Linked DNA regions of Homo sapiens. The protein of the gene in region 1 purifies or fractionates together with the protein of each later gene. This does not show direct contact. Each region holds a gene or a part of one and is shown on either strand. Other genes may lie near its edges. The genes, in order: CYB5R3, VDAC1 and VDAC2.

Region 1 (3,648 bases):
ATCCGACACCTACAAAGAAATGGGGAGACAGAGGAGGAGCGGCTCACCCTGCCCAAGGAGTCTGATGGATGGAGAAGGGGAAGGTGGCTGGGGGAGGGACAGCGTGTACACAGTGCCTCAGGGAGGGGAGCCTGTTGTGGCTTCAGCACAGAGGGTGGCTATGGGGTGTGGAGGCAGAGGGGAGTGGAGGGCCACGGACAGGCAGGCAGAGCACACTGTCCTGGGCCCTGGGTGCCAGGCCAGGACTCTAACCTTTATCAAGGACCAAGGGAGCCAGCCAGGTCTCCAAGCCAGGAGAGGCCTGGTCACCTGTGAGTTTTTCATCCTCAATTTGAATCCTCCTAATAGCTTCTCCACATTTGGCCAGAGAGACTTCAACGTGAACAGATGCTTGAGCCCTCATCACCTCCTCTGTGCTTCTGGACAAAGCCCCAAACCTTACTGGGGCCTCCAAGGCCCCGTCTGGCCCCACTGACCTCTCCCACCCCTTGCCCCAACCCTCCAGCCACTTCAATCCTTGAGCCTGCTGCTGACTTCAGGGCCTTTGCACCTGAAGCTCCTTTTCTTCCTTCTTCACCTGGTCAGTGCCTACTCAGCCCCAGATCTCACCTTCACTGTCACCTGCTAGGGAGCCACTCTCACCAGCCAACCCCACCCATCCCTGGTGGCCCTTCTGGAAGCTCGGTCGCAGGTACCTGTCCCCTGCAGGGAGCACTGGCTTCCCCATGACTATGTGTCCAGTGTCCGTCCTCCAGCCAAAGACGGGCTCCTGAGGCCAGGCCTGGGCGCCCCAGCAAGGAAGGAGCCCGGGCCAGGGCCCTTCCCACCCTTCAGATCCAGTGCCTGCCCCCAGACCTGGCAAGGTAAGGGCCTCAGCTACGGCCCAGTAAGGGGGCTCCAGGGGTACCTGAGGGTGCTGGGCTGGGGAGGCTATAGGGCTTTGGCCTTGATTGGGGAGGGTCTCCAACACCCCACATACCCACTGGTCTAGGCTGCTTCTCACCCTCTGTTCTGCAGGAAAGCTTGTATTTCTTTTTTTTTGACTGGCTCTCATTCTATTGCCCAGGCTGGAGTACAGTAGCATGATCTTGGCTTACTGCAACCTCTGCCTCCCAGCTTCAAGTGATTCTCCTGCCTCAGCCTCCCAAGTAGCTGGGATTACAGGTGCGCACCACCATGCCCAGCTAATTTTTTTGTATTTTTAGTAGAGACGGGGTTTCTCCATGTCGGCCAGGCTGGTCTCTAACTCCTGACCTCAGGTGATCCACCCGCCTTGGCCTCCCAAAGTGGCTTACAGGTGTGAGCCACTGTGCCTGGCTGAAAGCTTGTATTTCTAATTTTCATAAAAACGTCCCTGCTGGGGCCGTCATGCTGCCTCTTACTTCCCACTCGGCATGTGTGTTTCAGGTTCCGGGCTGCTGCCCCTAACGCCTGCATCTTCTCCTGTGAACCTCCACCTCGAACCCCGCAGCAGACCCCAGAAAGCCCATCACCCCAGCTCCCAGACAACACCACACGAGCCCCTCACATGTTTCCCTAGCAGGCCTGAGGGACATTTCTTAGGGAAACGGGTAAGAACAGGGCCTGCGTGTCACAGAGGCCCGGCCGCTGACCACGGTGGAGTGGCTGCCTCACCCCGCACACTCGGGACCCAACTCCCAGGGATCTCCCAGCGTGAGAGCAGGGACGGGACTGCGCCGTCACACCTCGCAGCAGGGGCGTCTGTACCGCCAGCCGGCCTTCCTGGAGCCTCTGCTGCAGGTACCTGTCCTTGTTTGAAGGCACTTGCCCTGAACCCTGGCCCCTGTTCTCTGCCAAGACCCCCTTCTTTGGCTTTTGTTGGTAAAGATGACGTGCTATTTACTCAGAAACCAGGCACAAGGGAGCACTGGGTCTTTGGAGTCCGGGCTGCGGGGGGACATGGACTCGAGAGGGGCTCTAGAAGCCACTGCCCCTGCAAGCCCCTGAGGAAGTGGGGCAGCCATGACCGAGGCTGGGCTGCACAGGGCAGGAGCGGGAGACTTCCCTGTCCAGGGGGTCCACATGGGCTGTTGCCATGGCCACCCACCCACACCCCCTCCACAGTCATGACCCAGAGGCTTCACCTTGATGACCAGGTCCACGAAGCCCTTGTCATCATCGCTGGAGATGGGTGTATAGGGCCGGACGACCAGGTTTCCATCAATTCGAGCCGAGAGGTAGATGTGCTGGCCTGCAGGACAGAACGGGGTCACTCTGGGCCAGAGATCATCCTGCGGGTGACCCCTGGGTCTTGTCAACCCACTCCCCTGCACCCCACCCGGCATTCAAAGCCTGGCCTGGCGTCAGCTCCCACGGCCCCCTCCCACCCCTCCCGGGGATTCCCCTCACGTCCCAGCTTCCTGCCTCCATGCCTTCACTCCTGCTGGTGCCACTGCCAGGGACTCTGGGCCTTCCCACTCTCATTCCAACAGACTCGCCCTCAAAGGCCCAGGGCAGCTGTCACCTCCTCCTGAAGGCTTCCCTGCTCTCCCTGGTGGAAATGTAAAGCTTCCATCTCTCTGATCTAGTGCCCCAGCAGCCTGCCGGGCTCCGAATGGGCCCAGCAGGGGCGTGACTCACCGACAGGGAGGCCCAGGATGTGCTGGGGTGACGGCAGGGCAAAGCGGAAGCGCCGGGTGTCATGGCTGATGATCTGGAGAGAGGCCCAAAGCTGCTGAACGGTCCCCAGGGCAGAGGCCTCCCAGGGCGGCTCCCAGGCCTCGGAGCCCCCATCCCATTCCTCCTTTGTGTCCCCACCCTTCCCCAGTGCCTGCTTGTCCTTGTAAGACGTGACGCCGACGCCAAGCACAGATGCACACACATGCACGCTGCGTGTGAGGTGCTGAGGCCAGGCGCACGCTGGGTGTGTCTGTCCTGCTGGCCTAGAGGGGCCACAAACAAGGTGGCCAGAACAGGGAATGAACCCAGGGTCCCAAAGGGAGGATGCCAGACAGGACGGGGAGGGAGGAATCCATCTCTGCCATCAGCTCAAGCAGTGGCCTGAAGGGGCAGGAAGAACTTGAGGGCTGGATGGGCAAACTGGGGCAGAGCTAGACAAGGCTGCACGTGCCCAGGCCTGCATCCCAAGAGAGGGGCTGCAGAAGCCACTGCACCTGAGAGCCCCTTGGGAAATGGGGCAGCCAGGACTGAGGTGGGCTTCACAGGGCAGAAAGTGGGAGCCTTCCCTGCCCAGGAACTCCAAGAGCCCAAAGCCAGGCTTCCACCCTGCACAGGGTGGGCACCCAGGGCATGGTCAGTGGCTGGGACAGTGGCAGAGGAGGAGGGGGGCTGGCTAAGAGCCAGATTGGGCCAGGGAAGGAGCTGAGACTAAAACCCCTGAGGTCTTGTTAAGTGGGTCTTACGCTCAGGCCAGGGACGATCACATAATCAGTTCCAGTCGGAGCTGGAACCAAACCCAGCGTCCTGAGGGTGCACTCCCTGTGGGGTCCCCAGTACCCAGCATGGCCAGGAGAGGGAGTGTGAAGAAGCCATGCGGAAGGTCGGCGCTGCAGAGGCGCTTACATCCAAACGTGGCAAAGTCCACATGTGGATGGTGTCATCACTTAGAGGGGGACAACAGACCTCTCCAACAGGGCAGGACATCACAGATGCCCATCTCGGCTCAGT
Region 2 (3,648 bases), on another chromosome or scaffold:
AATTTCAGGCACAGTGGTTGGCTTTTAAAGTGCTGTTTTTTTGGAGAGGGAGTCTCTCGCTCTGTCACCCAGGCTGGAGTGCAGTGGCACGATCTTGGCTCACTGCAGCCTTTGCCTTTGGGTTCAAGTGATTCTCATGCCTCAGCCTCCCAAGTAGCTGGGATTACAGGCACTTACCACCACGCCCGGCTAATTTTTGTATTGAAATTCTTTATCCTTAAACAAATTATTAGTATACACAAACAGCTTAAATAATGAAGCAGAACAAAAAATGAAAATTCGATTTGAAGTGCATTCCTTCCCTAAACCTCCTTCTCCAGAAGCGTATCTAAGCCAGCCCCAATTTGCAGATTGGCTTGTATCCTTCCACATGCTTTCCCATCCATTCATGAACATAGAAAGATGTGTAAAAAGGTTTTCCTCCAATTACATGGAATTACAAATTTTCTGACTTTTTTCATTTAACTGTATCATAGCTAGCTAGCTTTCTTTCTTTTTTTTTTTTTTGTTTCGAGACGGAGTTTTACTCTTGTTGCCCAGGCTGGATTACAATGGCGCGATCTCAGCTCACCACAACCTCCACCTCCCAGGTTGAGGCAATTCTTCTGCCCCAGCCTCCCGAGTAGCTGGGATTACAGGCATGCGCCACCACGCCTGGCTAATTTATTTTGTATTTTTAATAGAGACAGGGTTTCTCCATGTTGGTCAGGGTGGTCTCGAACTCCTGACCTCAGGTGACCCGCCCACCTCGGCCTCCCAAAGTGCTGGGATTACAGGCATGAGCCACTGCGCACGGCTATCGTAGCTTCATAGCTAGCTTTCTATGCCACCACATACATCCACCTTATTCTTTTTTTTTTTTTTTTTTTTTTGTGAGACAGTCTCGCTCTGTCATCCAGGCTGGAGTGCAGTGGCATGATCTTGGCTCACTGCAACCTCTGCCTCCTGGTTTAAGCTTGTGCCTCAGCCTCTCAAGTAGCTGGCATTACAGGCGTGCACCATCACACCTGGGTGATTTTTTTTTTTTATTTTTTTTTTATTTTTAGTAGAGACGGGGTTTTGCCATGTTGGCCAGGTTGATCTGGAAGTCCTGGCCTGAAGTGATCCGCCCACCTCAGCCTCCCAAAGTGCTGGGATTACAGGCATGAGCCACCCACCTTATTCTTTTTGATTACCATATGGTACTCCTTAGTTTGCAAGTATAGTACCTTAATTTTTATTCATTCATTTTCCTTTTGATGGACTTTTAGGTTGCTTCTGGGTTTTGTGTTACAAATACTGCTGCAGTGAGCATCCTCATATACACATCTTTGAGTAGTGCCTTGGTTGCTACAGTGGGGCAGGTTCCTAGAAGTGGAATTGCCACTAGGGTTAATGCTGGGTTAATTGCTCTCCAAAAAGAGTGTACCTGTAGTACTCCCCCTTGGCGTGAACAAGAGTGACTGTTTTCCACACCCTCACTGACACTGGATATTATTTACGTTTTTGCCAGACTGCTGGTTAAGTGAGCTTCTGAAACACAGATGTGGTAGTCACTCAACAGTGGCTCTTGGTGGCCCTTAGAATAAAATCCATGCATGGTATTGAGGTCAGAAGCAACCAGTGCTTCTGATGGCACTTGGTCTCCTCAGCCTGAGATCAGCTCTCCTTAGGCCGAGGTGGGAGCAGGCAGGGAGTGGAGGTCATTGCTAGTTGAGGGTCTCCCCAACTCCCCCACTCTTGGTGATGCTGCAACAGTGAGCCTGCAGAGGGAGCTCTTACTTCCTGGTTGCATTGTAATGAGTTCCTATTGTCAGATTCCAAGTTTCTACTTTTTTCCCCATTGCTAAATAATACTTTGATGCTCATTGCTCATTCACTCATCAAACACATTTATATTGAATGCCTATTATGTGCCAGGGCTTAGCATCTTTATATACGTAACTTTTTCCATATTTTGGATAAATTTATGCATGACAGGCTCTGGGGTGCTTTGAATTCAAAGAGGTGATTTTGGGGGTAGGTGTATGGGGTAGGGTGGGGTGGGGGCACGGTGAGCACAGCAGCTGTCATTGCCATTCAGCTGATGAGCCAAGAAGGATGTGTACCCCCAAGACAGAGGTTACGTAAGTATTATGCAGACTGTGCTGGGTGATAGATACACTATCCTTCCCCTCTGTGCTTCCAGTATGGGCCGGATTTTCATTCCTCAGCTGGAATGGGGCTTGCATAATTTGTTCAAGGTCAGCCAAGGAAAGGTTGGGTAGGTAGACTGGCAGGCTGTGGAGGGGAACCAGGGACTCCTGTATCCTGGTGTGACTTGCTGGTCCTTCTCAAAGTCTTCAGTGACTGCAGGCAGGTCTGCTCAGCCTGGCCCTGCCCATCCCTCTGTTTCCTACCAACCAGTGGGAACAAAGCCCCCAGGCTCTGCCCTGAAGCCATCACTCAGGCAGAGAGGCCTGTGGTTCTGACTCCCCCAGGACGCCCTCTGACTTCTGTCTGTCCAGGGCTAGCTGCTTTGCCGATGCCAGACTGCCCTGCTTCATGCGCAGCCTCTAGAGGCTCAGCTTGTGAAGGCCCCTGGGGGGTGGATGCTGCAGAGACAGCTGTGTATCAGTAGCTAACTGTACAGGCTCCGATTTGGAGCAGATCTGGGTGGAAGGAGTGACTGGGAGGGGTGGGGGCCAGGGTTCAGCCTTCAAGTCAGCACCCTGGCAGGGTGTTAAGTGAAAGCAGGCTTTGTTGCCGACTTTTCTTTCCTCCAGTCCTCGCCTTAGAAAATTAATGCAGATTATTATTTCTATCATAAAATTGTCTCTGAAATGGGTTCGAGAGCTGTGTAAAAATGGGCATTTTGGGGGTGCTGTCTGTAGCTGTAAGAAAGCTGAACTTCTCGGAGCGGCAGAGCTGTCTCGGGCCTTCCTTAGTTCCGTCAGATCAGTGCAGCAGGGGATGGGCCGAAGTGCACAAAAAGGAGGGGAAGCTACCACTACCTGGCAGTTGGGGGCCTTTAGTGAAAGGGTGAGTCATCCTTTTGCTGTCCTCGGTGGTGTCACTTCAGGCCCAGGAGTGGACTTGACTCCATTCAGCCAGTGGTTTCTGTGAGTCTTCCTTGCCAGGTGCTATGCTGGGGAGAATGCTTACTTGGGGGCCCAGAACGGGGGAGATTATGCTTCATTGTCGGTGTTCAAGGAGATGGGGAAGAGAGCAAGACACAGATGAGAAAGCCAGCATCCAGTATGTTTACAGTGAGGCATTGGATAGGGATATGTTTTAGTGAACCAGCAAGTTCACTTGCGTGCTGCTGGTACCAACTACATGGTTGTGTTGTGGAACCCCACAGCCCCAAAAGAGCTTGGCCGTGTCGGAGCTCCTAGAGGCCCCAGGAGGGGTCCGGTCTGCTCTTCTGAGCTCTGCTCTCTGAGTGCCTTGTCCTTGGGTGGTAATCTCTTTAGTGGCCTTGTACTTCAGGCTGATGTTTGCTGTGGGTGGGGTGTTTTTTGACAGGTGGCTGTGCTTGTTGGATTTTGGGGATTAGCGATGAGAGAGGGCATTTGGGGAACATTTAATGGATGAGTGCTCTGCCTTTATCCTGAGCGGGGACCAGTCCAGATGTGAAGGCTGCTGTGTCTGGGAGGCGTCTCTTCTGTGGGGTCAGGGGAGAGTCGT
Region 3 (3,648 bases), on another chromosome or scaffold:
AGTTCTGATGTCCAGTTCTTCGTGTCATTTACTAAATGCATCACACTGAGCAGGACACAACATTTTGCGGTTTTTTTTGGAGACAGGGTCTCACTCTGTCGCCCAGGTTGGAGTACAGTGCCACAGTCATAGCTCACTGCAGCCTCAAACTCCTGGGCTCAAGCGATCCTCCTATCTCAGCCTCCCAAGTAGCTGGGACTTCAGGTACCCACCAACAAGCACAGCTAATTTTTAAATTTTTTTGTAGAGACGGGGTCTCACTATGTTGCCCAGGTGAGTCTCAGAACTCCTGGGCTCAAGGGATCCTCCTGCCTTGGCCTCCCAAAGCGCTGGGATTACAGGAATGAGCCACTGTGACCAGCCTCACTTAACTTTTTTGGGTCTGTTTCTGCAACTATAATTACAAAGCCTACCTCCGAATGATTAAATTGAACTGACACTGTGAAAGTTTGTACGTTTTCATATGCTCCACAGAAAAGGAAAGCATTACTAAAACAATATATATGGAACAGGTTTTTCTAGCAGTTTGAATGGGGAATGTGTGAGTAGCTATTTTTAATCCTGAATGACATTAATGACTCTTGGGGCCCCACCTACGGCCATTCATCAGCCCACAGATCAAGAGCCAGCCTATATACACATGCCAAGGAAGCCTCAAGAAACAAAGCCAACACCACCCTGTGGGACCAGAGTTGGGCCAGATTACAGCTCATACCCTTTACCACCAGAAATTTTGGCTTCTACATTCTGGGGTGGCTTCAGTAGCTTTGCTGTTCAGGTAAGAAAACAGAGCCAGGTATTAATGGGACTTATCTGGGGCCAGAGACATACTATAGGATCAATACCATGGTTGTTGAGTTACATGTATTAAATGTGAATAAAAACATGCTATATCTAATCCAGCTCCTACATATCCTTCATGCTCTTAAACCTACTTCCATAAAACTTTCCCTAACCCTATACACAACAATCTATTCCTTTCCAACAAAGATTTGATTATCCAACGATCTAATATTTGATATTAATTACCTCAGTACTCTCAGTTTATTTTGTCTCTCCAACTAGAAAGTAAGCTTTTTAAACACAAGGACTGAATCTTTTTTAGAAGGCCTTTTGTGTTTCAACAAATACACTAGGGGCCTCAATAGACTAACAATGGGAACATTAAAAAACACTAAAAATCACTGCTCTGTAACCTGTTAACTTGGCCAAATAAGTCATCCAATCATAACTAAACACCTAAGCTTCCTTTCAGACCAAAAAAACCAAGCGACAGATATGATCAATGTAAATCCCCAGAAATCCAACAGGCCTAGGCTTTTAAACTACAGGGCTAGCGCTGTGGCTCACGCCTGTAATCCCAACACTTTGGGATCACTTGAGGTCAGGAGTTTAAGACCAGACTGGCCAACATGGCAAAACCCTGTTTCTACTAAAAATACAAAAATTAGCGGGGCATGGTGGCAAGCACCTGTAATCCCAGCTACTTGGGAGGCTGAGGCCGGAGAATCACTTGAACCTGGGAGGTGGAGGATGCAGTGAGCTGAGATCATGCCACTGCACTCCAGCCTGGGCGACAGAGCAAGACTGCGTCTCAGAGGAAAAAAAAAAAAACAAAACAAAAAAACTACAATACGATTAAATAAATATCAGTTACATGCACTACATCAAAAATGTCTATATAGGCCGGGCGCGGTGGCTCACGCCTGTAATCCCAGCACTTTGGGAGCCCGAGGTGGGCAGATCATGAGGTCAGGAGATTGAGACCATCCTGGCTAACATGGTGAAACCCCATCTCTACTAAAAATACAAAAAAATTAGCTGGGCGTGGTGGCCCGTGTCTGTAGTTTCAGCTACTCATGAGGCTGAGGCAGGAGAAAGGCATGAACCTGGGAGGTGGAGCTTGCAGTGAGCTGAGATCATGCCACTGCACTCCAGCCTGGGTGACAGTGCAAGACTCCGTCTCAAAAAAAAAAAAAGTCTCTCTCTCTCTATATATATACATACATACATATATCAAAATAACCTATAGTATTCTAATGTGCACACACACCCACCCCTAAAATAATCTCAAAACAAAAATTTTTTAAGTAAAAAAAATTTCACAAAGTTAAATTTTACTAGCTGGGCATGGTGGCTCACATCTGTAATCCCAGCACTTTGGGAGGCCAAGGCAAGTGGATCACTTGAGCTCAGGAGTTCAAGACTAGCCTGGGCAACATGGCAAAACGTCATCTCTAGAAAAACTACAAAAAATACTCAGGCATGATGGATACGGCCTGTACTCCCAGATGCTTGGGAGGCTGAGGTGGGAAGATTGCTTGAGCCCAAGAGGTCGAGGCTGCAGTGAGCTGAGATTGTGCCACTGCACTCACTGCACTCCAGCCTGGGCAACCGAGTGAGACCCTGTCTCGAAAAAAGTTAAATATTAGTTTATCCCCTTTGTAAACAGTTCATTGAACTATCAAGACACCCAAATACCAAAATATTAACCTCTTTAAAAATATTCTTGGCTGGGCATGGTGACTCACACCTGTAATCCCAGCACTCTGGGAGGCCAAGGTGGGTGGATCACCTGAGGTCAGGAGTTGGAGACCAGCCTGGCCAACATGGTGAAACCCCAGCTCTACTAAAAATACAAAAATCAGTCAGGCGTGGTGGCAGGCACCTGTAATTCCAGCTACTAGAGAGGCTGAGGCAAGAGAATCACCTGAACTCAGGAGGCGGAGGTTGCAGTGAGCCACAATCACACCATTGCACTCCAGTCTAAGTGACACAGTGAGACTCCGTCTCAAAAAAAAAAAATTCAGATCAGGACTCCCTAAACTCATAAAATACATGTGGAAATCTTCTCCAGGGAGAACTGCTAGAAAATGGACATTATATAAATGATTAGTACACTCAAATTAATGAGTTCCTGATATTTTTATGCCCATAACTCTGACGAGCATTGTTGACAAAGGGTTACAAAAAAGTCTAATAATGGGTTCCCTGCCTTCAAATGTGTAATCTTACGAGTAAAGAGTACCACCTGACTGGTCTTTCCTAAGTTCCTTGTGCATACATAATATGACGAAAGACCACATGAAAATCAGAAATCACATTCAAGGCCAAAATAAATCAGGTTACACGCAAATCTCTTAAAACAAAGTTAACTTCTGCCTCTTCTTTAAGACAAAACAGGTAGACATCTTTCAGTTATGACCATTTTACAAGTTGAAAAATTATAAAGGTTCAATAGAACTTATTCAACAGTAACACTCACCACGCCACTGCAAGACTTTGTTTTCACATCCAGTTTCACCAACCCAAAACCTTCAACAAATAGACAGCAAAAGAAACAAAATGATTCCTTTGTATGAAAGATGCATAGCAATTGTTGACTATACATAAAAAACAAAAAGATTCCACATATTCAGAGGTGGATAAAAATGTGTTAATATACAATATTTAAATGAAATTGTTACAAATTCGTCTTTTGTAAACTGGCTTATAAAGGGCAGAATTATCCCTATGCTGCTTTGTCTAGTTTTTGGTAGTTGGTACACAAAAGAATGCTTTCAAATTATTTATTTATTTATTTATTTATTTTGAGACGGAGTCTCACTCTGTTGCCCAGGCTGGAGTGCAGTGGCACGATCTCAGCTC

What was found.
Region 2: the proteins of CYB5R3 (region 1) and VDAC1 purify together in Homo sapiens (affinity purification with mass spectrometry; 2 studies listed by BioGRID and IntAct, with this or other methods). This does not show direct contact.
Region 3: the proteins of CYB5R3 (region 1) and VDAC2 purify together in Homo sapiens (affinity purification with mass spectrometry; 2 studies listed by BioGRID and IntAct, with this or other methods). This does not show direct contact.

Annotation. Positions count from the first base shown.
Region 1 is NC_000022.11:42,628,777-42,632,424, forward strand, and holds part of CYB5R3 (NADH-cytochrome b5 reductase 3), read right to left. Parts: intron 2,675-3,648; coding exon 2,602-2,674; intron 2,213-2,601; coding exon 2,106-2,212; intron 1-2,105. UniProt on the Homo sapiens protein: Catalyzes the reduction of two molecules of cytochrome b5 using NADH as the electron donor.
Region 2 is NC_000005.10:133,994,932-133,998,579, reverse strand, and holds part of VDAC1 (non-selective voltage-gated ion channel VDAC1), read left to right. Parts: intron 1-3,648. UniProt on the Homo sapiens protein: Non-selective voltage-gated ion channel that mediates the transport of anions and cations through the mitochondrion outer membrane and plasma membrane.
Region 3 is NC_000010.11:75,213,688-75,217,335, reverse strand, and holds part of VDAC2 (non-selective voltage-gated ion channel VDAC2), read right to left. Parts: intron 3,316-3,648; coding exon 3,266-3,315; intron 1-3,265. UniProt on the Homo sapiens protein: Non-selective voltage-gated ion channel that mediates the transport of anions and cations through the mitochondrion outer membrane and plasma membrane.